6 separate regions of the Homo sapiens genome follow, and regions 1, 2, 3, 5 and 6 are each reported to be linked to region 4. Evidence: microRNA targets listed by miRTarBase, many of them from high-throughput screens and not tested one by one. Region 4 holds a microRNA gene; each other region holds the end of a gene's coding sequence.
What was found. The annotated mature microRNA hsa-miR-1273h-5p reads CUGGGAGGUCAAGGCUGCAGU and lies in region 4 at 4,029-4,049, shown strand. An mRNA with a match to its seed (bases 2 to 7 or 8) in the 3' UTR can be bound and repressed. Matches are read on the target gene's strand: a 7mer-m8 pairs with bases 2 to 8, a 7mer-A1 pairs with bases 2 to 7 and ends in A, and an 8mer does both.

Region 1 (5,148 bases), not on the chromosome of region 4:
CCTTCATCTGCTGCTCTTGTTTAAGAAAGGGATCTGCTGCTTCTAGTTGAAAATTCACCACCTGGCCTCACGCCCCTTACCATACAAATGGAGAGGCAGAGGCCAGAGAAGAACTGGGACTAGGAACTCTGGGGAGTGTTCCAGGAAGCATTCCAGGAGGTCGGGGTCTGTGACACCTTCCAACAGTGTCTAGACTGGGCTCATGTCCTGTGTGGTGGCTTTAGACCATCTGGTGCATTCATTCCTCACCTGTGGCTCTCTTTCTAGCCCCCACCATGCCGTGGCCCCTGCTGCTGCTGCTGGCCGTGAGTGGGGCCCAGACAACCCGGCCATGCTTCCCCGGGTGCCAATGCGAGGTGGAGACCTTCGGCCTTTTCGACAGCTTCAGCCTGACTCGGGTGGATTGTAGCGGCCTGGGCCCCCACATCATGCCGGTGCCCATCCCTCTGGACACAGCCCACTTGGACCTGTCCTCCAACCGGCTGGAGATGGTGAATGAGTCGGTGTTGGCGGGGCCGGGCTACACGACGTTGGCTGGCCTGGATCTCAGCCACAACCTGCTCACCAGCATCTCACCCACTGCCTTCTCCCGCCTTCGCTACCTGGAGTCGCTTGACCTCAGCCACAATGGCCTGACAGCCCTGCCAGCCGAGAGCTTCACCAGCTCACCCCTGAGCGACGTGAACCTTAGCCACAACCAGCTCCGGGAGGTCTCAGTGTCTGCCTTCACGACGCACAGTCAGGGCCGGGCACTACACGTGGACCTCTCCCACAACCTCATTCACCGCCTCGTGCCCCACCCCACGAGGGCCGGCCTGCCTGCGCCCACCATTCAGAGCCTGAACCTGGCCTGGAACCGGCTCCATGCCGTGCCCAACCTCCGAGACTTGCCCCTGCGCTACCTGAGCCTGGATGGGAACCCTCTAGCTGTCATTGGTCCGGGTGCCTTCGCGGGGCTGGGAGGCCTTACACACCTGTCTCTGGCCAGCCTGCAGAGGCTCCCTGAGCTGGCGCCCAGTGGCTTCCGTGAGCTACCGGGCCTGCAGGTCCTGGACCTGTCGGGCAACCCCAAGCTTAACTGGGCAGGAGCTGAGGTGTTTTCAGGCCTGAGCTCCCTGCAGGAGCTGGACCTTTCGGGCACCAACCTGGTGCCCCTGCCTGAGGCGCTGCTCCTCCACCTCCCGGCACTGCAGAGCGTCAGCGTGGGCCAGGATGTGCGGTGCCGGCGCCTGGTGCGGGAGGGCACCTACCCCCGGAGGCCTGGCTCCAGCCCCAAGGTGGCCCTGCACTGCGTAGACACCCGGGATTCTGCTGCCAGGGGCCCCACCATCTTGTGACAAATGGTGTGGCCCAGGGCCACATAACAGACTGCTGTCCTGGGCTGCCTCAGGTCCCGAGTAACTTATGTTCAATGTGCCAACACCAGTGGGGAGCCCGCAGGCCTATGTGGCAGCGTCACCACAGGAGTTGTGGGCCTAGGAGAGGCTTTGGACCTGGGAGCCACACCTAGGAGCAAAGTCTCACCCCTTTGTCTACGTTGCTTCCCCAAACCATGAGCAGAGGGACTTCGATGCCAAACCAGACTCGGGTCCCCTCCTGCTTCCCTTCCCCACTTATCCCCCAAGTGCCTTCCCTCATGCCTGGGCCGGCCTGACCCGCAATGGGCAGAGGGTGGGTGGGACCCCCTGCTGCAGGGCAGAGTTCAGGTCCACTGGGCTGAGTGTCCCCTTGGGCCCATGGCCCAGTCACTCAGGGGCGAGTTTCTTTTCTAACATAGCCCTTTCTTTGCCATGAGGCCATGAGGCCCGCTTCATCCTTTTCTATTTCCCTAGAACCTTAATGGTAGAAGGAATTGCAAAGAATCAAGTCCACCCTTCTCATGTGACAGATGGGGAAACTGAGGCCTTGAGAAGGAAAAAGGCTAATCTAAGTTCCTGCGGGCAGTGGCATGACTGGAGCACAGCCTCCTGCCTCCCAGCCCGGACCCAATGCACTTTCTTGTCTCCTCTAATAAGCCCCACCCTCCCCGCCTGGGCTCCCCTTGCTGCCCTTGCCTGTTCCCCATTAGCACAGGAGTAGCAGCAGCAGGACAGGCAAGAGCCTCACAAGTGGGACTCTGGGCCTCTGACCAGCTGTGCGGCATGGGCTAAGTCACTCTGCCCTTCGGAGCCTCTGGAAGCTTAGGGCACATTGGTTCCAGCCTAGCCAGTTTCTCACCCTGGGTTGGGGTCCCCCAGCATCCAGACTGGAAACCTACCCATTTTCCCCTGAGCATCCTCTAGATGCTGCCCCAAGGAGTTGCTGCAGTTCTGGAGCCTCATCTGGCTGGGATCTCCAAGGGGCCTCCTGGATTCAGTCCCCACTGGCCCTGAGCACGACAGCCCTTCTTACCCTCCCAGGAATGCCGTGAAAGGAGACAAGGTCTGCCCGACCCATGTCTATGCTCTACCCCCAGGGTAGCATCTCAGCTTCCGAACCCTGGGCTGTTTCCTTAGTCTTCATTTTATAAAAGTTGTTGCCTTTTTAACGGAGTGTCACTTTCAACCGGCCTCCCCTACCCCTGCTGGCCGGGGATGGAGACATGTCATTTGTAAAAGCAGAAAAAGGTTGCATTTGTTCACTTTTGTAATATTGTCCTGGGCCTGTGTTGGGGTGTTGGGGGAAGCTGGGCATCAGTGGCCACATGGGCATCAGGGGCTGGCCCCACAGAGACCCCACAGGGCAGTGAGCTCTGTCTTCCCCCACCTGCCTAGCCCATCATCTATCTAACCGGTCCTTGATTTAATAAACACTATAAAAAGTTCTTTGCTTTACTCAGCCAGTGTCCACTGGCAATCCCTGGGCTGGGCTCTGGGGCCACAAAGATGAATCAGGTTAGGCCCTGCCCTGGGCAGCTTGTTCTCCCTGAAAAGCCTGATAATCTCAGGATTTGGGGAGTAAGGTGACGTGAAGGAGGGAGTTCCTGCACCCTGTTCACCTCTCATCTCCCGTGGCCCTACCCCACTGTTCCTGCCACCCCAGCTCCAGCCATAGCCATGAGCATGCAGGCCCTTGCACACCTGTTCTCTTGCTCAGGCGTTACTGTGGGACCTTGCCCTTGCCCTCACCCCTGTCTCTCAACCTCCTTCCTATCCAGTAGACCTAGTTCTTGCCCGCCCGCAGAAGCTTCCTTGGCCCCTTCCACCTCCCTCCTCTGAACTGCAACAGTATTTTGTTCTTCCTTGGTGCTTCAGCTGCTATGGTACCCCAGCTCCTGTTTGCACACTTCCACTGACAGAGATCACACTTGGAGCTCATCTGGGTGGCTCTGCTGTCACCAAGTTCTTCCTTCTAACTGGCCAGTCTACAGGGAATGTCTACCATCATCACCAATGACAGGTTTTTCCTGATCCCTACTCTGTGCCCAGAACATTCAGGCCATATGCACTGGTGGGAGCTTGCCCATCTTGTAATCAGGCCTCCCCAGGGAGAAGTATCAGCTTGAGGCCCTGGGTCCGAGGCTGGCACCCAGCGGTCAAGGTAGGAAAGAGCTGAGGCTTGGCGCCGGGCGGTGTGGAGGAGAGGGAGGTCAGGGTGAGACCCCGGGCCCCCACAGTCCTCCTGTTTGTTCTCCACTTCCCCTACATTTCCTGGGACAGGAGAGGATTCAGATGGAGGTAGGGATCACGGTACTTTCACCCAATGGGTCCGGGTCTTCCCAAGTCCCCGCTTGTGGAAGGAGTCCTTGCGGGAGGGCCATGGAACAAAAAGGCCTTAAAGACAGGGCCAAAGCGTGCGGAGGGCAGCGAAGGGAAGGAGGGGGCTTCTGCGGCAATCAGTTCTGGAGCAGGTCACCTCCGCCCGAGCTGCAGCTTCCTCCTCTGCAAAACGGGGCAGGGTGAAGGCCCAGTGAGAGCATGGGCGCGGATGCCATCACGCTGGGCGGGCTCGTCCTTCCCGTGGGGAACCTGCCCTGCACCCCGCAGCCCTGGCCTCCTGCCAGCCATAAGGAGAGCGGAAGCCCCGGCGGGCCTCGCCGACCCGGGAGTCCGCGCGGCCCCTCCCTGCCCGTGCGGAGGCTCCCGGCCCGCAGCGCCACCTCGTGCTCACGCATGGCCAGACACCCCAGATCCCAGCGGGGCCAAGAGCCAGGACCGGGGCGGCTGGAGGCCAAAGTGGGCTGCGCTGTTTGCTTTATGCGGCCAGTCCCTTCCCGCCCACCAGACTACCCTCGCCCTGCCGGACTCCGCCCTCCAGGAACCCTGGCGCCCAGGGCGAGGGCTTCGAATCTTACACAATCAGGAAAATTCGTGCAAAGAATCCGTTTTGGAATTCACAGAAAAGGGTTGAAATCTTGGGGTCATCACTAACCAATTGTGTGATTTTTGGCCAGGTCACTTTACTTCTCTGAGCCTGGAAAATAGGGATGAAAATATCTCCCTCAAGGCCGGGCACGATGGCTCCTGCCTGTAATCCCAGCACTTTGGGAGGCTGAGGCAGGAGGATCGCTTGAGCTCAGGAATTCAAGACTAAGACCAGCCTGGGCAACATAATTTAAAAATCTAAAAATTAACCGGGCATGGTGACGCCTGTAGTCCCAGCTACTTGGGAGGCTGAAGTGGGAGGATAGCTTGAGCCTGGGAGGTTGGATGACAGAGTTAGACCCTGTTTAAAAAAAAAAAAAAAAAAAGCAAAGAGAGAAAAATAAAAATAAAAGAAAGACAAAAAAGAAAGAGAAACAAACAAAGAAAGAGAAAATACCTCCCTGAGCCTGGGAGGTTGAGGCTGCCGTGAGCCGAGATTCTACCACTGCACTCCAGCCTGAGTGACAGAGCTAGACCCTGGAAAAAAAAAAGAACGAAGGAAGGGAGGGAGGGAGAGAGAAAGGAAGAAAAGAAAGAAAGAGCAAAAAAGGAAGAAGGAAAGAAGGAAAGAAGGAAGGGAGGGAGGGAGGGAGGGAGGGAGGGAAAATATCTCCCTCCACAGGACTGTGTGTAGAAGAAATGAAGTAACATTTGTAGAGAACCAAGTACGGTGCCTGGCACAAAATGGCAGCCTCTAAGTGCTCTTTCCCGCCCTCATCCAACCATGGAGTTATGAAGTAGATTACAGAGCCATGTAGTCTGAGTCTGTTTTTTATAACTCGCACTCAGAACTGAAGAATTTTGT
Region 2 (4,198 bases), not on the chromosome of region 4:
CCGCCTCAGCCTCCCAAAGTGCTGGGATTACAGGCGCGAGCCACCGCGCCCGGCCTAGAATTCTTGGAGATAAAGCAAGTACATTTGGAGTAGTTGCCGTGACAGCATTACTAGACCCTAATTGTATTTTCTTTTTTAATTTGAAGGCACAGAGCATGGAGAATGATGAACTTCCGTCAGCGGATGGGATGGATTGGAGTGGGATTGTATCTGTTAGCCAGTGCAGCAGCATTTTACTATGTTTTTGAAATCAGTGAGACTTACAACAGGCTGGCCTTGGAACACATTCAACAGCACCCTGAGGAGCCCCTTGAAGGAACCACATGGACACACTCCTTGAAAGCTCAATTACTCTCCTTGCCTTTTTGGGTGTGGACAGTTATTTTTCTGGTACCTTACTTACAGATGTTTTTGTTCCTATACTCTTGTACAAGAGCTGATCCCAAAACAGTGGGCTACTGTATCATCCCTATATGCTTGGCAGTTATTTGCAATCGCCACCAGGCATTTGTCAAGGCTTCTAATCAGATCAGCAGACTACAACTGATTGACACGTAAAATCAGTCACCGTTTTTTCCCTACGATTACAAAACTGCCAGTCCTATATGGAGTCTGATCACAAGACTGCAGTTTCTTCACAGATCTCAGGAAGTTGTCGTGGGGCAGAGGCTTTTTAAAAACATGTGATTAGGGAGCTATCTTTATCTGAATAATAACGAATTTTTAGGTAAAACCTGAGATAGAGTACTACAAAATCATGTTGATGACTTCAGATTTTGGAAGTTAAATCATGTCTGTTATTTGCATTCTTTAGAAACTTGACTAAGTACCTGAATTCATATTTCTATTCTACTGTGCAACATAGTGATGATTCAGAAATTTTTCCTTTGGGGAAAAAAATGAATATGAACATTTCCATTGTGTTAAGTGTAAAAAGGTCCAGACATGATCATAAAATTTAAATTTTATACAATTACTTGGCTTGCTTTAAAATTCTTCACACTTAAAACACCGATTCATTCTATTGCAGCTAAGCCAGCTGTCTAGACTTGCTGTCAGCTTATGAGGCATTGCTAAAAAATTATTGAGGAAATGGCTGTCTTGATAAGCAGAATTTGTTCTTCCTCTTGGTAATGGCTAAATTATTATTAATGCTTTTAATGGTTTTATTTTTTATATTTTTCTTTTTTGTGGAGAATGGGGTCTCGCTATGTTGCCCAGGCAGGTCTCGAACTCCTGGGCTCAAGCTTTCCTCCTCTCTCTGGCTCCCTAAGTGCTAGGATTACAGGTGTGAGCTACCATGCCCAGCTATTTTTAATTAAAAAAATTTTTTTTTTCCATGACTTGTGACACAGTCTCAGAAGGCCCTGAGAACGTACGCTCCAATGCTACTGATTTAGAAAACTATCTGGGAAGAAACTAAGTGTTAAATGTTGAAAGGCTAGAAATAACTTACAAATAGAAGATGGAAACAATGTGTTCAATGAAAATCTAGCAGGTTATTTATTATTTATTTAAATTATTATTATTATTTTTGAGACGGAGCCTTGCTTTGTCACCCAGGATGGAGTGCAGTGGTGCAGTCTTGGCTCACTGGAACCTTCGGCTCACTGCAACCTCCACCTCTCGGGTTTAAGCGATTCTCTTGCCTCAGCCTCCTGAGTAGCTGGGATTACAGGTGACCACCACCATGCCTGGCTGATTTTTGTTATTTTAGTAGAGACAGGGTTGCAGCATGTTGGCCAGGCTGGTCTCAAACTCCTCACCTAACTAAGGTAATCCACTTGCGTCAGCCTCCCAAAGGCCTGGGATTACAGGCATGAGCCACCATGCCTAGCTGTATTTATTTATGTTATTTATTTTGAGATGGAGTCTTGCTCTGTAGCCCAGACTGGTGTGCAGAAGTGCGATCTCAGCTCACTGCAACCTCCACCTCCCAGGTTCATGCTATTCTCCTGCCTCAGACTCCCGAGTAGCTGGGATTACAGGCACCCACCACCATGCCTGGCTAATTTTTGTATTTTTAGTAGAGACGGGGTTTCACCATGTTGTCCAGGCTGGTCCCGAACTCCTGACCTCAAGTGATACACCTCAGCCTCCCAAAGTACTAGGATAACAGGCATGAGCCACCATGGCCAGCCTATAGCAGGTAATTTAGTCCAGTCCTTATCAGATGCATGAGACCCCTCTAAAAGATGCTATCAAGTCATAATCTTTCTGATTTTCTTTTCTGGCCCAAGGTCAGGTCATCAGGCAGTAGGTTAATTACATGAAGATGTGTTCCTGTACCTTCTCCTTTGCATTTGTACTACCTCACATCTGGTACTAATACAAATAACTAAAACATGGACACAGTAGCATTTCTTTTCTGCATGAGATCAAGATATATTTTTATACAGTTATGTCATTAATACTGGAAAACATTTTATGCTTTTAATAATCAACACTTTTTGATGCTTATTCTGTTGGGCCCTATTCTAAGAGCTTTATGGAAATTAACTAATGTAATCCTCCCAACAACCCTATAAGATGGGTATTATTATCCAGATTTCACAGATAAGGAAACTGAGGCAGAGAAGTCAAGTAACTTGCCAAAGGTCACAGCGAGTAGCAGAGCCAGGGTTATAACCAGGCATTCTAACGCCATCGTTACTAACCACAGAGGCATAGCGCTTCTCACAAATGACAAATGTTTTAGCACTGGGTACTCTTTGCCCAGTCATGCCAAAGAATGGAAATGGCAATAGTATTGACAAGTTTTTCTCTATTTGTCTACTAGAAATCTGAAAGTTTCCTAGCAACCTCATCTTTCCACTACATCTGACTGAACCCGAAAGGAAGGCTGAGTATTCCATAGCAAGCTGTTACTTAAAAGATAAAGCAGGTACCTTTGTGATGTAAAAGTAGCAGATCAGATCCTTCAGATCAATTAGTCTCATTTATCTCACTGCCTCCAAAGGTCTAGTTACTGAAATGATATATCTTTTGATATAACACGTGGAATCCTCAAAGTAAGCAGCAGTTTGAAATACTTGTTTTTGTGAGGGTCAGATGACCAAATCACTTGCATCTTTTAAGTATTCAGTATGCATGTTACAGACATTGTTTATGAGTGATTTACATTTATTCTTCACAACAGTCCTGGGAGGCAGGTATTATACTGCTACTAGTGTCATTTTACAGAAGAAACCTGAAACACGTAGGAATAACTTGTCCATAGTCACATAGCCAGTATGTGAAAGAGCCGATTTGAACCTAGGATGTTGGCTTCAGATCTCCAGCTTTTTATCATTCTATACTGCTTCTCAAAAAGGAGAGTAATTTGAGGGAAATCATTGAGAGTTGCCAGTTTTATTAGTCTTGAGGCAGTGATTTAAGAAAATTATTTCAGTTTTGTTTTGTTTTATAAATGCTTTATGTAGGCTGGGAGTGGTGGCATCTGTAATCCTAGCACTTTGGGAGGCAGAGATGGGAGGATAGCCTGAGCCCAGGAGTTCATGACCAGCCTGGGCAACATGGCGAGACCCCATTTCTATTAAAAAGGGGTGGCTCATGCTACTCCCAGCACTTTGGGAGTCTGAGGTGGGCAGATCACTTGAAGCCAGGAGTTCAAGACCAGCCTGGCCAACGTGGTGAAACCCTGTCTCTACTAAAAATAGAAAAATTAGCCACGGCTGGTGGTGCATGCCTGTAATCCCAGCTACTCAGGAGGCTGAGGGAGGAGAATCGCTTGAACCCAGGAGGGAGAGTGGCAGTGAGCCAAGATCGCATGGGCCACAAGAGCAAGATTCCATTGCAAAAAAAAAAAAAAAAAAAAAAAAAGGTTATGTAATGCAAGGTTTGTGAGGTTGCCACTGGTATTGCAAAGTTTTCTTAATGAAGTTGATTCATCTCTTTTTATACTTCAAATTCTAGTATTTTGGGATTTGGTAAGCAAATGTTCAGTCCATCTCTATCTTTCAAGATTATATTGCCTTTTGCCTTGATAGAAGAAATAGTAAAATAATTAGAGTAGGATTAATGTAGTAAATTCAGTATTTCCAAATGTAATTACTATATTTCAGATTGCAGGTTTAATCTGCTTTTTGATTAGGAGCTATTTATCCAAGTTGTGGATTATTTCTGGTTTGTGGCTATTTAATAGTTCAAAGCATTTTTTAGGTAAGGTAAAGAGGGAAAAGTGAAATATATTTTTTAA
Region 3 (4,000 bases), not on the chromosome of region 4:
AAAACCCCAGGCCATGCAGTGGGTCCCAGGAGTGATGGGGTTAAGGGGAGTGCCCACAGCCCAGTTCACATGAAGTAGGTCACCCTGTTGCGCACGTACCTAGACTATCCCAGGTAAGTGAGATATCAGCTGGTCAAACTAATGGGCTCATCCTGTCTTTCTAGGTGGTTTCATCAGTTTCAATGGCTCCTGGAGGGTCCAGGGAATCCTGGCCATGTCTCGGTCCCTGGGGGATTATCCGCTGAAAAATCTCAACGTGGTCATCCCAGACCCAGACATCCTGACCTTTGACCTGGACAAGCTTCAGCCTGAGTTCATGATCTTGGCATCAGATGGTCTCTGGGATGCTTTCAGCAATGAAGAAGCAGTTCGATTCATCAAGGAGCGCTTGGATGAACCTCACTTTGGGGCCAAGAGCATAGTTTTACAGTCATTTTACAGAGGCTGCCCTGACAATATAACAGTCATGGTGGTGAAGTTCAGAAATAGCAGCAAAACAGAAGAGCAGTGAACCCTTCAGGGGTCTCAGCTGCCTTAGACTAAAGGACTTTCAACACACTGGTCTCTTTTAATTTAGTGAAAAGTGTGGGAGTTGTAATTAGGATCATCCACCCCAGACATGGAATCCCCCCTCCCTGGTGGTCTTAGGTCTATAATCAGTGACGAACAGAGGGTGCCCTTGGCCAATGTAGTTAAGAAACTGGAAAATGGTTTCTTCATGTTTTCCCAACTCTTTCATCCAGTGTCCAAAATATATAAGTAAATAGCTGTAGAGTCACATATATGAAGTGAATAGCATATGTGTCATTTAGTCTCCCTGAAGATTCTTTTCAAGATCCTGTTCAGGGTCCTCCAGGCATCAGCTGTTGTGTCCTCTCTTTGTAACAGTGGACAGGACAGACCACCCAGTGCTGCAGGAGACAGGCCACTGCGTCACCTGTGAGTGGTCAGGGGCTGATGTGGCAACACCCTCTGCCAAGAGACAGAGCTGTCCTGAGAATGCTTTGTCCTTCTGAGCCCATGTTTTCTGCTCAGTAGCAGCTTGGAAGCAGATTTGGAATGGTTTACTATTTTGGCTGCTCTTGGGGACTGCGAGAAGCAGAGAGAATGAGAGACCAGTGGCAACTGCCTGCACAGCAGAGATAACCCTCTTCCCTTGCTTCCTTTAATAGTTAAATAGACTTTGTATACCACCTGACCAGCCTTTGTGCATTTATCCTAATCATGCATGACCGTTAACCTTTTGCTTAGTCCTTACCATATGTAATAGGCAGCTGTTAAATTCACCAACAGATACCCTGATTTTTCATCTTACGTGACCAAGAAACCACGTTAGGGGAAATGAAAAAAGCAAGCCACAATACCATGATTCCTTCCATTTTCAACAGTAGATGAAGGAAATGATACTGAATGAGTCACAGTGTTCCCTGGCAAGTAAGCTGTTTGCATTGAGAAAGGAGTGAGCTGGTGAGGTTACCACCCTGAATTGAGCTCCAGCTGCCAGTTTTTGTGTTTTTCCTTGCCCCTTTCCAAGTGGTTTTCAAGTGTCAGGCAGTGTTCTGAGAAGCAGCAGCCTATAACTGTATGTGTGTTCCTTGAAGCCAGGTGCAGAGTTCCCAGCTACTGCAGCTTGGGATTTGGTGGGAAACTACTGGGATAAGCTTCTCCTTGACAATGGAAAGGCAGCAGTCTTCAACATTTGGTTGCAAATCTCCATCCACATCAGGGAGCTTTCCCCAGGCAAATACAAACCGCCCCGTGGCCTGCAGGCCTGCAGGGGAGGCAGCAAAGGGACCTGGCAGTTGCAACACAGTAAGTCAGGAATTCAAGCGTGAACCCATATTGATAAGTGGGCCAGAATTATTTAGGGGCCTGGCTTGCTGCTCTCCATTTCCTGTATCGCTAATTTATCATTTTTCCAACCTTGGTATTTTATATTATTTAGAGAAAATGCTGGGTCACTCTCTTTGCCTAAGGTGACTCAAACAGCCAAACGAAACTTCCGTTGCCTCCCAGCCCTCTGTATCCACCTGGTTTTGTTCTTTCCCTGTGAGCATTTGTGGTTATAGCTTCCCATATGCCACATTCACCGGCCACCTCCTCGCCGTGGAACCCTGCCCTCTCCCCTCCTGCTGCTGTAGAGTTTTCCCAAAGCAGTGTCCAGGAGAGAATTTGAGAGAGTGAAGAAATTGCCTTGTAGATGTGGAGGGCTGCAATCTGTCTTGATTTCTCCAAGCACTTAACTTTCTTTGACTGCACTGAGAATTGCTAATGATTTCCCATGAGATTTGCTTACTTTTGTATACTGTATTTTCCAGCATTACAGAACCTTGGTTATTGTTTTTTAGCCATAGAATCTTCTAGTAAAAAATATCTGCCACCATTTTAGATTTAAGCATTTGCCTATGGGGAGACACTGAATATGTGGATGTGTGTATTAATATTTGGGGTGGGGACAGGGAAGGGAATGTGGAAAACAAATGCTGGCTGTGAGCAGTGCTGAGATGGCCAGGCCAGGCGGCTGAGTTTGCTTGGAAATTCAGGACATTCTGACTCCTAAGAGTTGCCCCCACCCACCATCAAACTGAAATCAGCACCAATGGTGTCAGCACTTTACAGCCCATAGCCAACTTTCTTTATTTTTAACGTAGCACAAAAATGTATAATAGCAAGGAAAAGACATTTTTAAATTCCGGTTATTTTTATTGTCTAAAATGAAAGCAACAGTGTTTTGATAAAGATGAAAAAGAAAAGCTACTAAATTAGTAAATCAGTGGTTACGTGCCCTGCAGAATTTCTTAACAGATGGTGCTGAGTGCACGAGTTACATAACTTTCTCTCTAATTGAGGTTCACAAGGCGTCTTCTAAATTTTGCTTTGTACAATTAATTCATTTCTGATGTTAACCAAATAGAGTGTATATATCCTACTCCCATTACTGCCTCTTTCCCCCCTACTATGGCTTGTAGATTTTCAAAAGATAGAAGTTCTAGGCAAAACTGTAGCAGTTTCATTAATAGTTGTTAGGATAGTTATATCTAAAATCAGAGTATTTTGTTCCCTTCCTTCTGGAGCTCTCTCTCCCTAGCCCTTTTCCAGCTGTTGGGGATGTGCAGACATCACTCCTGGGGGTGCCCTATGGTACACTGGCTGCTCCCCAGGGACCTGGGAATGCTGAATCTAGCCATTAGGGAAATTGATTTGAGATGTTTGCATGTGAAGCTTCCCTAAGCAGCACTGCCAAAGCTTTGGAATTGTCACCCAAGGCTTCCTAGACTCCCTAGCTAGCTCGAGTTCGAATTGCCAATAGTCCCCATGGTGCCAAATTTTGGGATGGTTTTACAGTCTTTTAGAAATGAAGACAGGAATGGCCATGTGCTTCTGAGACCCCAGCACGATGCCAGGCCCAGGTCTCCATTAATGCAGTGCTCTGCTGCTGCTCCACTGGCAATTTGTACTCTTAACATAGGTTGGGGGAGGGACAGCTAGGGAAATTTTTTTTAATTAATTGTATCTAAAATTCTTTCATCATAGGAATAAACAACACATATAGAAAGCTCCAAAGCTGTTCCCAAGACCTGTATTATTTATTTTATATGACCAACTTGCCCCAAGGCAATTAACTCTGAATTGCTGTTCTAATGTGACATATCTGTGTACATATGTACATAGTACTGGTAACCAGTGGCTGCATTTTATTCCTTGCTGTGGACTGAGGTATTGGCTTCTTGAATCTTGTATATGTCATAAGAATATTATACAGAGAGTGTTATAGTGAAGGATGTAAGCTGGATAATTTAAAACAGACCTTATTTCATACAAGTGTAATTATTACATCATTTTGGGTAAATGGCAAACAGGATTGCATGAGAGTGATGGCATCATCATTTCAATTGAATCTGAAGTGATTCTAGGAAATTGATTCCACTGTTGGATTCTAGGAAATTGAGTCCACTGTTTTCCTTTGCGTTTAATTTCCTTTGTGTTTAATTTGACCACA
Region 4 (5,148 bases):
CTTGTCCTATGCTCTGTTAGTATCATTTCCAAAATACTACTTGGGCTATCTGATCACATCCCATTGCCCGTATCCTCTGAGAGTCTAAATGCTGAACTGCTTCAGAAACTAAATCATACTCACAGGACTTGGTTTCTCAGCAATTTTATCATCTGAAAACATTGTTTATGTAGCTGAGGTCAAAAGCTTCAAGTACTGCTTTAATGAGCTGCGAATCTGTTCATGTGACATTCTCTTCCAAACCCAATTGCCCTTTACACTGTATGAGTAAGTGCCTCTGTGTGTGTGTGTCTGAATGTGTGTGTTTGATGTGCTGACATTTCTGAATTGAATCCAGAAAGTGTAACCTTTGTATGTTTGCTGTTAAAACTCCAAATTCAAGCCTTAAGAAAAGGATCTAACACTTACTCAATGTGATTTATTTAAGCACAGAACCTAACTCCCCCAAAGTATCAAATACTCAAGAGAACAATTCATTTTTGAAAATTGTGATTTAAAATAATTCTCATAAAACCTTTACTGTTCAAATATATTAGAAAATATATTGCATTTTTGTCTGCATCAGGCACTGTTTTAACTGCCTTCCATGAATTGCCTCATTTAATTCTCTCAACCCTGTAAGGTAGGGTTATCACCACAGTATAGATGAGGAACTAGAGCTTGGAAAAGTTAAGGCATTTGCCCAAGGTCCAGCAACTAGAAAGCAGAGGAGCCAGGACTTGATCCCTGGACTGTACACTGCACAAGACCCTTGTAAAGATTATTAGAAGCACTTGGAGCCCCTGGTAAGGTTTGTGATTGTGCTACCAGGAGAGTCATGATAACACCATCGAATGGTGTCTGTTACATAATAGAAAAAGACTGAGTATTCTTACAATTCAAATGATTTAAATTTATTTTAAAATATTGCAACAAATAAGTAGCATCTTCACAGCTTTTATAATTCGTTGTCAGGATTTTAAAAGATGCAAATCTTATTTGTTCCTTAGGGCTTTGATTTTGAGGCTGACAAAGACGGCATGCATTGACTAACCTCTGAAAGAAGGGCATGGCAGCATTGAAATGAGGCAGCCGAGACAGGCTCATTAAGGAGTAGAGGTTTCCCTGCTCATTTCTGGTTGTTCTTTTGGGGTATCCACTGTGTGGAGTTTGCAGAGATCTTAATAAAAATATCAACCTACATTTATATACTGACAAACAAATAGCCAAGAGCCATTTAGGACACACAGCTTGGAGTCTGTTTATCTCTCTCCACCTATCTACACACCCATGGAGAACCCATTTAAACTTCAGATCAAACCAGGCTCCCTTTAGATGGTTGGAATTGTCAGGTTCCTGAGCCAGGTGAAGTTCCTAAATCAGTTTCTGTCTTAGTCCATGTTGTGTTGCTATGACTGAATACCACAGACTAGATAATTTATAAAGAAAAGAAATTTATTTCTTACAGTTCTGGAGGCTGGGAAGTCCAAGGGTGAGGGGCTTGCATCTGGTGAGAGACTTCTTGCTGTGTCATCCCATGGCAGAAGGTGAAGGGCAAGAGAGAGTATGCGTGCATGTGTGTGCATATATATGCATATGCATACATGTGTGTGCACATGCAGGGGAAAGATACGGAGCCAAACTCATCCCTTTTATTAGGATCCCACTACCAAGATAATGTTGTTAAGTTCTCATGAGGTGCCACCTCTCAACACTGTTGCATTGGAGATTCAGTTTCTAACACATGAACTTTGGCGGGGCAAGTCAACCATAGAACCTACCAGATACATGACTTTGAGTCATGTACTATTATATTATTATTTATTATTATTATTGTTATTTTGATACTGGTCCATGGCCCAGGGATTGGGGATCCCTGCCCTAAATCGTGAGGAAGATTGAGGCCCATGGGTGCCACTGGTTGGTAGCCGTCAGCTTCTTACCACCTACCGGCACCTCCATAGTCATCTTGACCTCCTTGCCCAGCTTCCATCTCTGTCTTAGCAAATATGTTTTCCCTCCCCCAACTCATGTGAGACTTACCCTCACTCCTGCTCTGGACTCCAGCCTCTTGATCCTTCATGCTTATCTCCCCTGTTTAGTCTGTCTACAGCTTCTCTCTGTATCAACAAAACTCCTATGGTTTCAAATAGGAATCTGATTTAAACTGACTTTTAAGCAAAAAATAATGATAGTTAGTATTCAGATGTAGATGGATCATCTACATCTGGTCCCAAACAATGCCAGCAGGGAAACATTTATCTATATCCCTTAGGATTACTTTCCCCACTGTGTTGACTTCATTCTTCATTCTCAGAAGGCTTTCTTGGGCACATAGCAACTCCCAATTTATGTCCCATTATCTCTGCAACTTCTACCAAAGAAAAGGGCTTCCTTTTTATAAAATCCCAGCAGCCTAGGACTCAATCTTTTTGGAAGATTATTGGGTCATATGCCCATCTCTAAGGGAATTGCTCACTGCACCAGGGGGATGGAATGTGCTGATTGACCGGGCCTGGGTCACCAGCCCCTCTTAGCCAGAGAGCTGGATCTAATCCAGACATTTTGAAAAAAGAGAAGGAATGTCCTATCTAAATCAGACATTTTGAAAGAAGAGAAGGAATATCTCCTTTAAGAAAAAAAAGCCACTGTCATGGCCGGGTGTGGTGGCTCACGCCTATAATCCCAGCACTTTGGGAGGCTGAGGCGGGTGGATCATGAGGTCAGGAGATCGAGACCATCTTGGCTAACACGGTGAAACCCCATCTCCACTAAAAAATACAAAAAATTAGCTGGGCGCGGTGGCGGGCACCTGTAGTCCCAGCTACTCGGGAGGCTGAGGCAGGAGAATGGCGTGAACCCAGGAGGCGGAGCTTGCAGTGAGCTGAGATAGCGCCACTGCAGTCCAGCCTGGGCAAAAGAGCGAGACTCCGTCTCAAAAAAAAAAAAAAAGAAAAAAAGAAAAATAAAGCCACTGTCACTAGAAGAAAAGACAATGCCTGCTGGCTGGGCAAAAACAGCAGCTGTCCTTTCTGACTCTATCCTGGCCTTCTCCTTTGTGCATAAACCTGCTATGTCTTTTTCATGTTAAAAATCCCCTACCTCAAACCTGGGAATCCTCCTTACTACTACTCTTACTACTGCTATGATTACTACCCTACCTTACTTTGCATACAAACACACTTTTGAAAGAGTTGCCAGTTCCTGCTATTTCCACTTGATGACAATTTATTGTTTCCTCAGTTTGGTGCAATCTGGCTTCTGCTCCCGCCATCCTATTGATATTTTTCTCATTGAGTCATCAATGACCTGAAAACTGCCTCTTCTCATAAGCTTGTCTCATCTTTCTTGACCTCACCATATTATTAGGTGCTCTAATCCTTTCTCCTTTAAAAAAATGTGAAAAAATAAAATATTCAAGCAGCATCAGAAGCTACAAAGTGAAATTAAGATTCCCCTCACCCATGGCTCCTAGCTAGGCTTCCTGGTTCTCCTTCCCAGAGACACCCATTGCAACCAGGTTCTTGTGTGACCTTCTAGAGAAGATGTGTTCAGGCCCAGAAATAGTCTACATCACACACAAGGATGTTAGCATGCTGTGTACAATTTCTGTATCTTGCATTATTCCCCTCTGTCTTGGAGATTGTTTCTTATCTGCTTATCTAACTCTACATCACCCTTTGAATAACTTCCTAGTTTCCTATATAAGTGAGTTTATCTGTAGGAAAAGTTCAGAGTGCCTTCTTTCTTTTTAAGCCCCTCTTCTCCTTCATTTTTATGACATTGTGTGTCTGTCTTAGTCTGTTTTGTGCTGCTATAAGAATACCTGAAACTGGGGCCTGGTGCAGTGGCTCATGCCTGTAATTCCAGCACTTTGGGAGGTTAACATGGGCAGATCACTTGAGCTTGAGCCCAGGAGTTTGAGACCAGCTTGGGGAACATGGCAAAATCTGTCTTTACACACACAAAAATTACAAAAATCAACCAGGTGGGGTGGCACATGCCTGTAGTCCCAGCTACTTGGGTGACTAAGGCAGGATTGCTTGAGCCTGGGAGGTCAAGGCTGCAGTGTCGTGGTCACAGCTTGCTGCAGACTCGACCTCCCAGGCTTAAGCAATCCTCCTGCTCGAGTGACAGAGTGAGACCCTGTCTCAAAAAAAAAAAAGTGGATAACTTACAATGAAAAGAAATTTATTTGGCTCATGGTTCTGGAGGGTGGGAAGTACAAGATCAGGGGCTGTATCTGGGGAGGACCTTCTTGCTGCATAGTAACCTGATAGAAGGCATCACATGGCAAGAGAACACATGAGGGAGGGTAACTTACTTTTTAAATAAATTCACTCCCACAATAATAACATCAATCCAGTCACCTCCAAAAGTTCCCACCTCTCAACACTGTTGCATTGGGGATTAAGTGTCCAGCACAAGAACTTTGGGAGAACACATTCAAACCATATCACCACATTTGCTGATGTTCTTCCTACCTTCACAGCCACTCCCAATAGAAATTCCAACTCCACAAAGACTTCCAGTGACAGTTGAATTTGGAGGGTTGAGACCAGCTCATGACCCAGAAAGGAAAACAGAAAGCTTACTTTTTGTTTTGTTACAAGTGCAGTCTCTTAAAAATAACCACAAAATGCCCCCCCAAATGGCATATGGAAAACAGCACAGAGATGGTGTGTTAATCTACCTGAAATGTCTTTCTAAGGAAGTGAGGCTTGGATGGGAACGGAAATGCATCCCTTTTTCTTCCCAGGGTACACGTCTTTTTCTCACTTCCTCTAACTGGGAGCCCCAGGGCCTGGCTTTGTCTTGTAGCTTCCTGCCGTGATGCACCAGGCTAAGTGGGAAGGTTTCTGTTCTATGTCTAAAGTAGCACTGGCAGGTCCTCATTCTGCTTGTAATTGGGATGGGAATATGGGTAGGAATTTAGGGTTTGGCAGAGCGTACAGGACCTCTTTCAAGCCAGAGCACAGCCCTGTCAGACTTACTCACTGGACATGAATGGGTCAGTCAGCCCTCAGCAGTAACCACCAGCTACCATGTTAAGTATTTGATGTGAATTTTATCAAGTCATTCTCGCCACACCCTACAAGAAACTTGAGCTTAGGGGACTTAGCTAACTTGCTTGAAGGTTGTATAGCTGGGAATTGTTGGAGCCAGGAT
Region 5 (4,968 bases), not on the chromosome of region 4:
TGTGTTTGGCACTGGTGGACATGGTGTGTGGCAGTGTGAGCCAACAGGCCAATGGGTGGCAAGCATAGGAGGCTTTATGGAGCACCCTGAAGAACCACTGTGTGGAGGGGAAATGGCCCCCTGTGAGGAAAGTCCTAGCAGCTGGTGGAGCGCAACCAGATGCGGGTCCAGACTGATGGGGTCTCCATGGCAGCCCAGGTGGGAGGCGGAGGAGGAGAAGGGAGACAGTGAGAAGGTTGTCACCAGGCCCTCACTAATACCCGGGGAGCAGCCCGTGTGCAAAGGAGGTGAAGGATGGTGGTTTTCTTTTGTTTGAGATGGAGTCTTGCTCAGTTGTCCAGGCTGGAGTGCAATGGTGCGATCTCGGCTCACTGCAACCTCCGCCTCCTGGGTTCAAGTGATTCTTCCGCCTCAGCCTCCCAAGTAGGTGGGATTACAGGCATGAACCACCAAGCCCAGCTAATGTTTGTATTTTTAGTAGAGACGGGGTTTCACCTTGTTGGCCAGGCTGGTCTCAAACTCCTGACCTCAGGTGATCCACCCACCTCAGCCTCCCAAAGTGCTGGGACTACAGGCGTGAGCTACTGTGCCCAGTCGAGGATGGGTTTATATTGGGAAAACCAAGCCTATCAAACTTGGTGAAAACGACCACAGGATGCAACCCTCTGGCCTGGGACCCACCCCATCAAGTGTGTGGGGGCTGACAAGAAAACAGCAACGGCTCCCGGACAGCTCCCAGCAGGGCTCACTGCTTAGCCCCAGCCTAGCGCTGAATGGGGCTGTTCCTGGCCCGACAGCCTCCCGAGGCCTGCTGCCAACACCGCACCCTTCCCACCCGTGTCCTGGAAGTGCTCAGAGGAAACATCTGCCCAGAACATGACATCACTAAATCATTAATGAGACAGTCACTATATGACATAAATCCACTTAGCAGAGCCTCACTCTCACCTAGCAACTGGGTCACCAGCAAACTAACCACTTGGTGTGACTCTTCCATTAGGACTGCGTGGCCCCGGAGCCTCAGAGGCCAACGTTCCCAACCAGGGACTCCACCCTTCTCCCAGAGGGAGGCAAAAACAACACAATGTAACTGAGAACCGGGTTGTAAAAACCGGTGGAAGAGCTGGGAACAGTTAACGGGGTGTCTTTCACTTCTGCGTGTAGGAGCCGAGGTGGAGCCGCCAGCTGTGCAGAGGACACCCCCTCCTGGGAGGTAAGAGGGCTCGCCAGAGCCAGCAAGGCGTGCGGGCAGGGTCCCTGTGCGGTGGTACTGGTTGTTTCTGAGGCAAACAGAACTCCCCCCCTTTTTTTTTTTGAGACGGAGTTTCGCTCTTATTGCCCAGGCTTGAGTGTAATGGCGCCATCTCGGCTCTCCGCAACCTCCGCCTCCTGGGTTCAAGCGATTCTCCTGCCTCAGCCTCCAGGCTAATTTTTGTATTTTTAGTAGAGATGAGGTTTCACCATGTTGGCCAAGCTGGTCTCGAACTCCTGACCTCAGATGATCCACCCTCCTCGGCCTCCCAAAGTGCTGGGATTACAGGCATGAGCCACTGCGCCCGGCCACAGAACTCCCCATTTTATACAGTGGGAAACAAAGGTGCAACGACCCCAGGGACAGGCTTGGGAAACAGCTAATAAACAGCAGAGCCAGGCCACAAGGCCAAGTCTGACTCGGGGATCTCCATCCCACACCCGCCATCAACAGCAAACACATTAAAACTAAACCCCACGGCTGGGCGCAGTGGCTCACACCTGTATTCCCAGCACTCTGGAAGGCTGAGGCAGGCGGATCACCTAAGGCTGGGAGTTTGAGACCAGCCTAGCCAACATGGTGAAGCCCCATCTCTACTAAAAATACAAAAATTAGCCGGGCATGGTGGTGTACACCTGTAATCCCAGCTACTTGGGAAGCTGAGGCACGAGAATCACTTCAACCCGGGAGGCAGAGATTGCAGTGAGCTGAGGTTGCGCCACTGCACTCCAGCCTGCTGGGCGACAGAGCGAGACTCTGTCTCAAAAACAAAACAAAACAAAACAAAACTTAAACACCAGGGAACACACACAACACACATACCAATAAGATCACGAAGAAGGAATGGCTGAAAAGCCCACCAATTGTAGTTTATTTGGAGTCCAGCCAAGTACCATTTGTGTTGAAAAGACCTATTTTTCCCTAATTGGCAGTGAAACATCATTAAATATATGTACTCATATACACACACACAATATGGCATGTACACTTGACACACGTCCATGCATGGGCACTGAGAGAGCCTGGGCAAGTCAGTTAAGACCCTTATCTGAAGGACATACCCTTGGTGCCATTTGGGAGAACAAACTCCTGTTACTAGCATTGCAACAAAAACAGGTGGCAAGCTTTAAAGATAAACTCAAGACAGCGAGTGAAACTTCAGCAAATACGTGTTAATACGACCATGAGTAAAAGGCCCTTCCTGGCCGGGCGCAGTGGCTCACGCCTGTAATTTCAGCACTTTGGGAGGCGGAGGCGGGAGGATCACCTGAGGTCAGGAGTTCGAGACCAGCCTGGCCAACATGGTGAAACCCCGTCTCCACTAAAAATACAAAAATTAGTTGGGCGTGGTGGCAGGCGCCTGTAAGCCCACCTCTTTGGGAGGCTGAGCCATGAGAATCGCCTGAACCCAGGAGGTGGAGGTTGCAGTGAGCCTAGATTGTGCCATTGCACTCCAGCCTGGGTGTCAAGAGTGAAACTCCACCTCAAAAAAAAAAAAAAAAAAAAAGACCCTTCCTAAGAACAGCACTGTAACTCATGAGTTATTACTCAAATGCATCTGTCCATCTACCCACCAACTCAGGTCCTCTCCATACACTCCTGTAAGTCACCGGGCTACCGGGAGACTGCATGGGAACAACCACGCTCGCGCAGCCTGTCCCGCAGCCATCGCTCCTCCCACAGCTCCTGGCTGCCCACGGCGCTTCCCTGTAGCAAACCCAGCTGCTGACGTCATAAAAGGCACACAGCCGGACCTGTCTGTGCTCATCTAGTTCCATTTACAACAGACTCATCCACAAAACCGAAGTGGTAGAAACAGGTCTTTTTGAAGCCAGGCGTGGTGGCTCATGCCTGTAATCCCAACACTTTGGGAAGCTTAGGCAGGAGTATCGCTTGAGCCCAGGAGTTCGAGAACAGCCTGGCCAACATGGTGAAACTCTGTCTCTACAAAAAAAACTTTAAAAAGTAGCTGGGGGTGGTGGTGTGTGCCTGTGTGGTCCCAGTTACTCGGGAGGCTGAGGTGAGCGGATCACTTGAGCCCAGGAAGTTGAGCCACAATGGCACCACGGCACTCCAGCCTGGGTGACAGGGCGAGATCCTGTCTGAAAAGAAAAAAAAAAAGAAAAGAGAAGAAAAGAAAAGAAAACAGGTCTTCCTGGGAGCACCTAGACAAAGGCCTTTGTAAAGATAAATTACCGAGGAATATTTCTAGTTGCCTGTTTTCTTCAAAATCACAGTCAAGTAAGCTGGGCGTGGTGGCTCACCTCTGTAATCCCAGCATTTTGGGAGGCCGAGGTGGGCAGATCACCTGAGGTCAGGAGTTTGAGACCAGCCTGCCCAACATGGTCAAAACCCCATCTCTACTAAAAATACAAAAATTAGCCAGGTGTGGTGGCACACGCCTGTAATCCCAGCTACTTGGGAGCCTGAGGTGGGAGAAATACTACCCAGGAGGCAGAGGTTGCAGTGAGCCAAGATTGTGCCAGTGCACTCCAGCCTGGGCGACAGAGCAAAACTCTGTCTCGGGAAAAAAAAAAAAAATCGCAGTCAAGTAAAAAGAAACGCAACTAAAAGAGCCGTCAGTTAAATACATTCCTCTCTCGTGGCAGGACGAGTCTATAAGATTTGTTTTGTTTTTAATTTAGTGTAAAGTTTTTTTAATGTTTAAACCTTGTGACACATCAAATTACATGCTTGAAGCTGTTACTTTCTGTCAAAAAAGTGAGTTTTTAATATGAAAATTCTGCTTAGGTTAAAAATTAAAAAAAAAAGAGCGAGTTTTATACATCCGCATGAATTGTTTCCTTTAGCACTAGTCAAACAGACTCCATAACCTTCCAAAGAAGTGCCTTCGTTTATTTACAGGGCTTAGGAAAGGAAAAAAGCTCTACAAAAGGGAAATTTCAAAATAGGGCTTCAGCAGGGGCCCAGGTGGAGTGAGTAGTTTTGATAAGGTCCAGGTGGGACTCACTTCCAGGTGGTGAGGACCGCTCTCCCCGAGTCTCTCGATCGGCCTGCTCTGGGCCCCAGAGACTGACCCTGACGGCTTCTCAGCTCCCGGTCAGCCCCGTCACCCTGGGCCAATTCTTCATCATACCTGGAGACAGAAACAGCCAGGATCACGGCAGGCTCTCTTTCAAAGGCAACAGGCAGGGCCACCAGGCTGCTGTGTGGCAAATATGACATCACCCAGAGAAGCGGCCTGAGGGGGCCCCACCCTCGCGACTCCTGCTGGCTCCCGCCCACCTCCCACCTGGCTCCAGCCCACCTGCCTGCCAGGTGGCTCTCGCAGCCCAGCAAATGCTCCCCAAGGCCAGCCTGCCTATGTGTACAACCTTGTTGTTATTGTGGACAGTGGTCTCCCCTCGGAAGCTGACATTTTATACAGGTCACCAGGTCAAATATGGCAATGACTCCAAAGGCAACATGCATGAGGTGACACAGAACCAGCCCAGGGTAAGTGAGGTGAGACTGCCTGGCTGGAAACGCTTCACACAAGGCACCTGCAGGCTGGGGGGACTAACTCCATTCCAGATGGGAGTGGTACATGAGCACTGGTCAGTGGAGGCCAGGGCAGAGAGGCCCCACGGTGCACACTCAGCTAGAGACTCTGCCAGTGTGACCCACGCCACCCCTCCCCATTTTCTTTTTTTTTGAGATGGAGTTTCACTCTATCACCAAGGCTGGTATACAGTGGCGCAATCTTGGCTCACTAC
Region 6 (5,048 bases), not on the chromosome of region 4:
CAGAACAAACTGCAATAAAACAACAGAGGATGAATCCAGAATGTGATTGATTTTTTTTCTTACTAGGAAAGGATCTAGAGGCCAGAAGGCTGGATTTTTCAGGATCTCCTTTCAATCAATGAATCTGTGATAGAAGCAGATGAATCAAATCTCATCTTTGTGTGATTATAAAGCTGTCTGTGGTATTCACGCCACCAGGGGTACATAGAAGATGCCTGAGTGAGGTTTGGCAAAAGTACTAAGGGCCTGTCCACCTATACATGCCCTTCTCAGGAAAACCAAGGTTCAAGCTCTCTATTAGCTCAACTGGTAAGGCGTAAGACATGGAAGGTTGAGGCCCAATGTTAGAAATAGATGGATACATAAAACTTCATCAAGTTAATGTCACTTTTTCTCCTTTATTTATAGGAAGTACATTTGAAGAACGCAAGTAGAGGGAGTGCAGGAAACAAGAACTACAGGATGTAGGAAGACCCTCCTGAGGAGTGAAGAGTGACATGCCACCGCAGGATCCTTTGCTCTGCACGAGTTACCTGTTAAACTTTGGAACACCTACCAAAAAATAAGTTTGATAACATTTAAAAGATGGGCGTTTCCCCCAATGAAATACACAAGTAAACATTCCAACATTGTCTTTAGGAGTGATTTGCACCTTGCAAAAATGGTCCTGGAGTTGGTAGATTGCTGTTGATCTTTTATCAATAATGTTCTATAGAAAAGAAAAAAAAAATATATATATATATATATCTTAGTCCCTGCCTCTCAAGAGCCACAAATGCATGGGTGTTGTATAGATCCAGTTGCACTAAATTCCTCTCTGAATCTTGGCTGCTGGAGCCATTCATTCAGCAACCTTGTCTAAGTGGTTTATGAATTGTTTCCTTATTTGCACTTCTTTCTACACAACTCGGGCTGTTTGTTTTACAGTGTCTGATAATCTTGTTAGTCTATACCCACCACCTCCCTTCATAACCTTTATATTTGCCGAATTTGGCCTCCTCAAAAGCAGCAGCAAGTCGTCAAGAAGCACACCAATTCTAACCCACAAGATTCCATCTGTGGCATTTGTACCAAATATAAGTTGGATGCATTTTATTTTAGACACAAAGCTTTATTTTTCCACATCATGCTTACAAAAAAGAATAATGCAAATAGTTGCAACTTTGAGGCCAATCATTTTTAGGCATATGTTTTAAACATAGAAAGTTTCTTCAACTCAAAAGAGTTCCTTCAAATGATGAGTTAATGTGCAACCTAATTAGTAACTTTCCTCTTTTTATTTTTTCCATATAGAGCACTATGTAAATTTAGCATATCAATTATACAGGATATATCAAACAGTATGTAAAACTCTGTTTTTTAGTATAATGGTGCTATTTTGTAGTTTGTTATATGAAAGAGTCTGGCCAAAACGGTAATACGTGAAAGCAAAACAATAGGGGAAGCCTGGAGCCAAAGATGACACAAGGGGAAGGGTACTGAAAACACCATCCATTTGGGAAAGAAGGCAAAGTCCCCCCAGTTATGCCTTCCAAGAGGAACTTCAGACACAAAAGTCCACTGATGCAAATTGGACTGGCGAGTCCAGAGAGGAAACTGTGGAATGGAAAAAGCAGAAGGCTAGGAATTTTAGCAGTCCTGGTTTCTTTTTCTCATGGAAGAAATGAACATCTGCCAGCTGTGTCATGGACTCACCACTGTGTGACCTTGGGCAAGTCACTTCACCTCTCTGTGCCTCAGTTTCCTCATCTGCAAAATGGGGGCAATATGTCATCTACCTACCTCAAAGGGGTGGTATAAGGTTTAAAAAGATAAAGATTCAGATTTTTTTTACCCTGGGTTGCTGTAAGGGTGCAACATCAGGGCGCTTGAGTTGCTGAGATGCAAGGAATTCTATAAATAACCCATTCATAGCATAGCTAGAGATTGGTGAATTGAATGCTCCTGACATCTCAGTTCTTGTCAGTGAAGCTATCCAAATAACTGGCCAACTAGTTGTTAAAAGCTAACAGCTCAATCTCTTAAAACACTTTTCAAAATATGTGGGAAGCATTTGATTTTCAATTTGATTTTGAATTCTGCATTTGGTTTTATGAATACAAAGATAAGTGAAAAGAGAGAAAGGAAAAGAAAAAGGAGAAAAACAAAGAGATTTCTACCAGTGAAAGGGGAATTAATTACTCTTTGTTAGCACTCACTGACTCTTCTATGCAGTTACTACATATCTAGTAAAACCTCGTTTAATACTATAAATAATATTCTATTCATTTTGAAAAACACAATGATTCCTTCTTTTCTAGGCAATATAAGGAAAGTGATCCAAAATTTGAAATATTAAAATAATATCTAATAAAAAGTCACAAAGTTATCTTCTTTAACAAACTTTACTCTTATTCTTAGCTGTATATACATTTTTTTAAAAGTTTGTTAAAATATGCTTGACTAGAGTTTCCAGTTGAAAGGCAAAAACTTCCATCACAACAAGAAATTTCCCATGCCTGCTCAGAAGGGTAGCCCCTAGCTCTCTGTGAATGTGTTTTATCCATTCAACTGAAAATTGGTATCAAGAAAGTCCACTGGTTAGTGTACTAGTCCATCATAGCCTAGAAAATGATCCCTATCTGCAGATCAAGATTTTCTCATTAGAACAATGAATTATCCAGCATTCAGATCTTTCTAGTCACCTTAGAACTTTTTGGTTAAAAGTACCCAGGCTTGATTATTTCATGCAAATTCTATATTTTACATTCTTGGAAAGTCTATATGAAAAACAAAAATAACATCTTCAGTTTTTCTCCCACTGGGTCACCTCAAGGATCAGAGGCCAGGAAAAAAAAAAAAAAGACTCCCTGGATCTCTGAATATATGCAAAAAGAAGGCCCCATTTAGTGGAGCCAGCAATCCTGTTCAGTCAACAAGTATTTTAACTCTCAGTCCAACATTATTTGAATTGAGCACCTCAAGCATGCTTAGCAATGTTCTAATCACTATGGACAGATGTAAAAGAAACTATACATCATTTTTGCCCTCTGCCTGTTTTCCAGACATACAGGTTCTGTGGAATAAGATACTGGACTCCTCTTCCCAAGATGGCACTTCTTTTTATTTCTTGTCCCCAGTGTGTACCTTTTAAAATTATTCCCTCTCAACAAAACTTTATAGGCAGTCTTCTGCAGACTTAACGTGTTTTCTGTCATAGTTAGATGTGATAATTCTAAGAGTGTCTATGACTTATTTCCTTCACTTAATTCTATCCACAGTCAAAAATCCCCCAAGGAGGAAAGCTGAAAGATGCACTGCCATATTATCTTTCTTAACTTTTTCCAACACATAATCCTCTCCAACTGGATTATAAATAAATTGAAAATAACTCATTATACCAATTCACTATTTTATTTTTTAATGAATTAAAACTAGAAAACAAATTGATGCAAACCCTGGAAGTCAGTTGATTACTATATACTACAGCAGAATGACTCAGATTTCATAGAAAGGAGCAACCAAAATGTCACAACCCAAAACTTTACAAGCTTTGCTTCAGAATTAGATTGCTTTATAATTCTTGAATGAGGCAATTTCAAGATATTTGTAAAAGAACAGTAAACATTGGTAAGAATGAGCTTTCAACTCATAGGCTTATTTCCAATTTAATTGACCATACTGGATACTTAGGTCAAATTTCTGTTCTCTCTTCCCCAAATAATATTAAAGTATTATTTGAACTTTTTAAGATGAGGCAGTTCCCCTGAAAAAGTTAATGCAGCTCTCCATCAGAATCCACTCTTCTAGGGATATGAAAATCTCTTAACACCCACCCTACATACACAGACACACACACACACACACACACACACACACACACACACATTCACCCTAAGGATCCAATGGAATACTGAAAAGAAATCACTTCCTTGAAAATTTTATTAAAAAACAAACAAACAAACAAAAAGCCTGTCCACCCTTGAGAATCCTTCCTCTCCTTGGAACGTCAATGTTTGTGTAGATGAAACCATCTCATGCTCTGTGGCTCCAGGGTTTCTGTTACTATTTTATGCACTTGGGAGAAGGCTTAGAATAAAAGATGTAGCACATTTTGCTTTCCCATTTATTGTTTGGCCAGCTATGCCAATGTGGTGCTATTGTTTCTTTAAGAAAGTACTTGACTAAAAAAAAAAGAAAAAAAGAAAAAAAAGAAAGCATAGACATATTTTTTTAAAGTATAAAAACAACAATTCTATAGATAGATGGCTTAATAAAATAGCATTAGGTCTATCTAGCCACCACCACCTTTCAACTTTTTATCACTCACAAGTAGTGTACTGTTCACCAAATTGTGAATTTGGGGGTGCAGGGGCAGGAGTTGGAAATTTTTTAAAGTTAGAAGGCTCCATTGTTTTGTTGGCTCTCAAACTTAGCAAAATTAGCAATATATTATCCAATCTTCTGAACTTGATCAAGAGCATGGAGAATAAACGCGGGAAAAAAGATCTTATAGGCAAATAGAAGAATTTAAAAGATAAGTAAGTTCCTTATTGATTTTTGTGCACTCTGCTCTAAAACAGATATTCAGCAAGTGGAGAAAATAAGAACAAAGAGAAAAAATACATAGATTTACCTGCAAAAAATAGCTTCTGCCAAATCCCCCTTGGGTATTCTTTGGCATTTACTGGTTTATAGAAGACATTCTCCCTTCACCCAGACATCTCAAAGAGCAGTAGCTCTCATGAAAAGCAATCACTGATCTCATTTGGGAAATGTTGGAAAGTATTTCCTTATGAGATGGGGGTTATCTACTGATAAAGAAAGAATTTATGAGAAATTGTTGAAAGAGATGGCTAACAATCTGTGAAGATTTTTTGTTTCTTGTTTTTGTTTTTTTTTTTTTTTTACTTTATACAGTCTTTATGAATTTCTTAATGTTCAAAATGACTTGGTTCTTTTCTTCTTTTTTTATATCAGAATGAGGAATAATAAGTTAAACCCACATAGACTCTTTAAAACTATAGGCTAGATAGAAATGTATGTTTGACTTGTTGAAGCTATAATCA

Region 1: the mRNA of TSKU is a reported target of hsa-miR-1273h-5p. Seed matches in the 3' UTR shown: 7mer-m8 at 1,971-1,977 and 7mer-m8 at 2,392-2,398.
Region 2: the mRNA of LYSET is a reported target of hsa-miR-1273h-5p. Seed matches in the 3' UTR shown: 8mer at 1,794-1,801, 7mer-m8 at 1,933-1,939 and 8mer at 2,096-2,103.
Region 3: the mRNA of PPM1L is a reported target of hsa-miR-1273h-5p. Seed matches in the 3' UTR shown: 7mer-m8 at 2,009-2,015.
Region 5: miRTarBase lists TTLL1 as a target of hsa-miR-1273h-5p. The part of its 3' UTR that is shown has no 7-base or 8-base seed match.
Region 6: miRTarBase lists IGF1 as a target of hsa-miR-1273h-5p. The part of its 3' UTR that is shown has no 7-base or 8-base seed match.

The regions. Positions count from the first base shown.
Region 1 is chr11:76,795,342-76,800,489 of GRCh38, forward strand. It overlaps TSKU (tsukushi, small leucine rich proteoglycan), which reads left to right. Exons shown (of 2, transcript NM_015516.4): 2 at 268-2,803. The coding sequence starts at 276. The coding sequence ends at 1,337. Among named protein-coding and RNA genes, the nearest start is that of TSKU, 15 kb to the left of the region's middle. RefSeq lists an enhancer at 1-855 and a silencer at 3,838-4,097.
Region 2 is chr14:93,186,114-93,190,311 of GRCh38, forward strand. LYSET (lysosomal enzyme trafficking factor) reads left to right here. Exons shown (of 2, transcript NM_001098621.4): 2 at 147-2,350. The coding sequence ends at 558. Among named protein-coding and RNA genes, the nearest start is that of LYSET, 2.9 kb to the left of the region's middle.
Region 3 is chr3:161,068,647-161,072,646 of GRCh38, forward strand. It overlaps PPM1L (protein phosphatase, Mg2+/Mn2+ dependent 1L), which reads left to right. Exons shown (of 4, transcript NM_139245.4): 4 at 165-4,000. The coding sequence ends at 511. Among named protein-coding and RNA genes, the nearest start is that of B3GALNT1, 35 kb to the right of the region's middle. RefSeq lists an enhancer at 1,050-1,099.
Region 4 is chr16:24,199,120-24,204,267 of GRCh38, forward strand. It overlaps MIR1273H (microRNA 1273h), which reads left to right and starts at 3,997; the gene lies at 3,997-4,112. All of the region lies in intron 16 of PRKCB (protein kinase C beta), which reads left to right.
Region 5 is chr22:43,035,557-43,040,524 of GRCh38, forward strand. It overlaps TTLL1 (TTL family tubulin polyglutamylase complex subunit L1), which reads right to left. Exons shown (of 11, transcript NM_012263.5): 11 at 3,960-4,349. The coding sequence ends at 4,220. It overlaps TTLL1-AS1 (TTLL1 antisense RNA 1), which reads left to right and starts at 3,029. Exons shown (of 3, transcript NR_125362.1): 1 at 3,029-4,708.
Region 6 is chr12:102,397,927-102,402,974 of GRCh38, reverse strand. It overlaps IGF1 (insulin like growth factor 1), which reads left to right. Exons shown (of 4, transcript NM_000618.5): 4 at 409-5,048. The coding sequence ends at 468. All of the region lies in intron 6 of LINC02456 (long intergenic non-protein coding RNA 2456), which reads right to left. Among named protein-coding and RNA genes, the nearest start is that of IGF1, 80 kb to the left of the region's middle.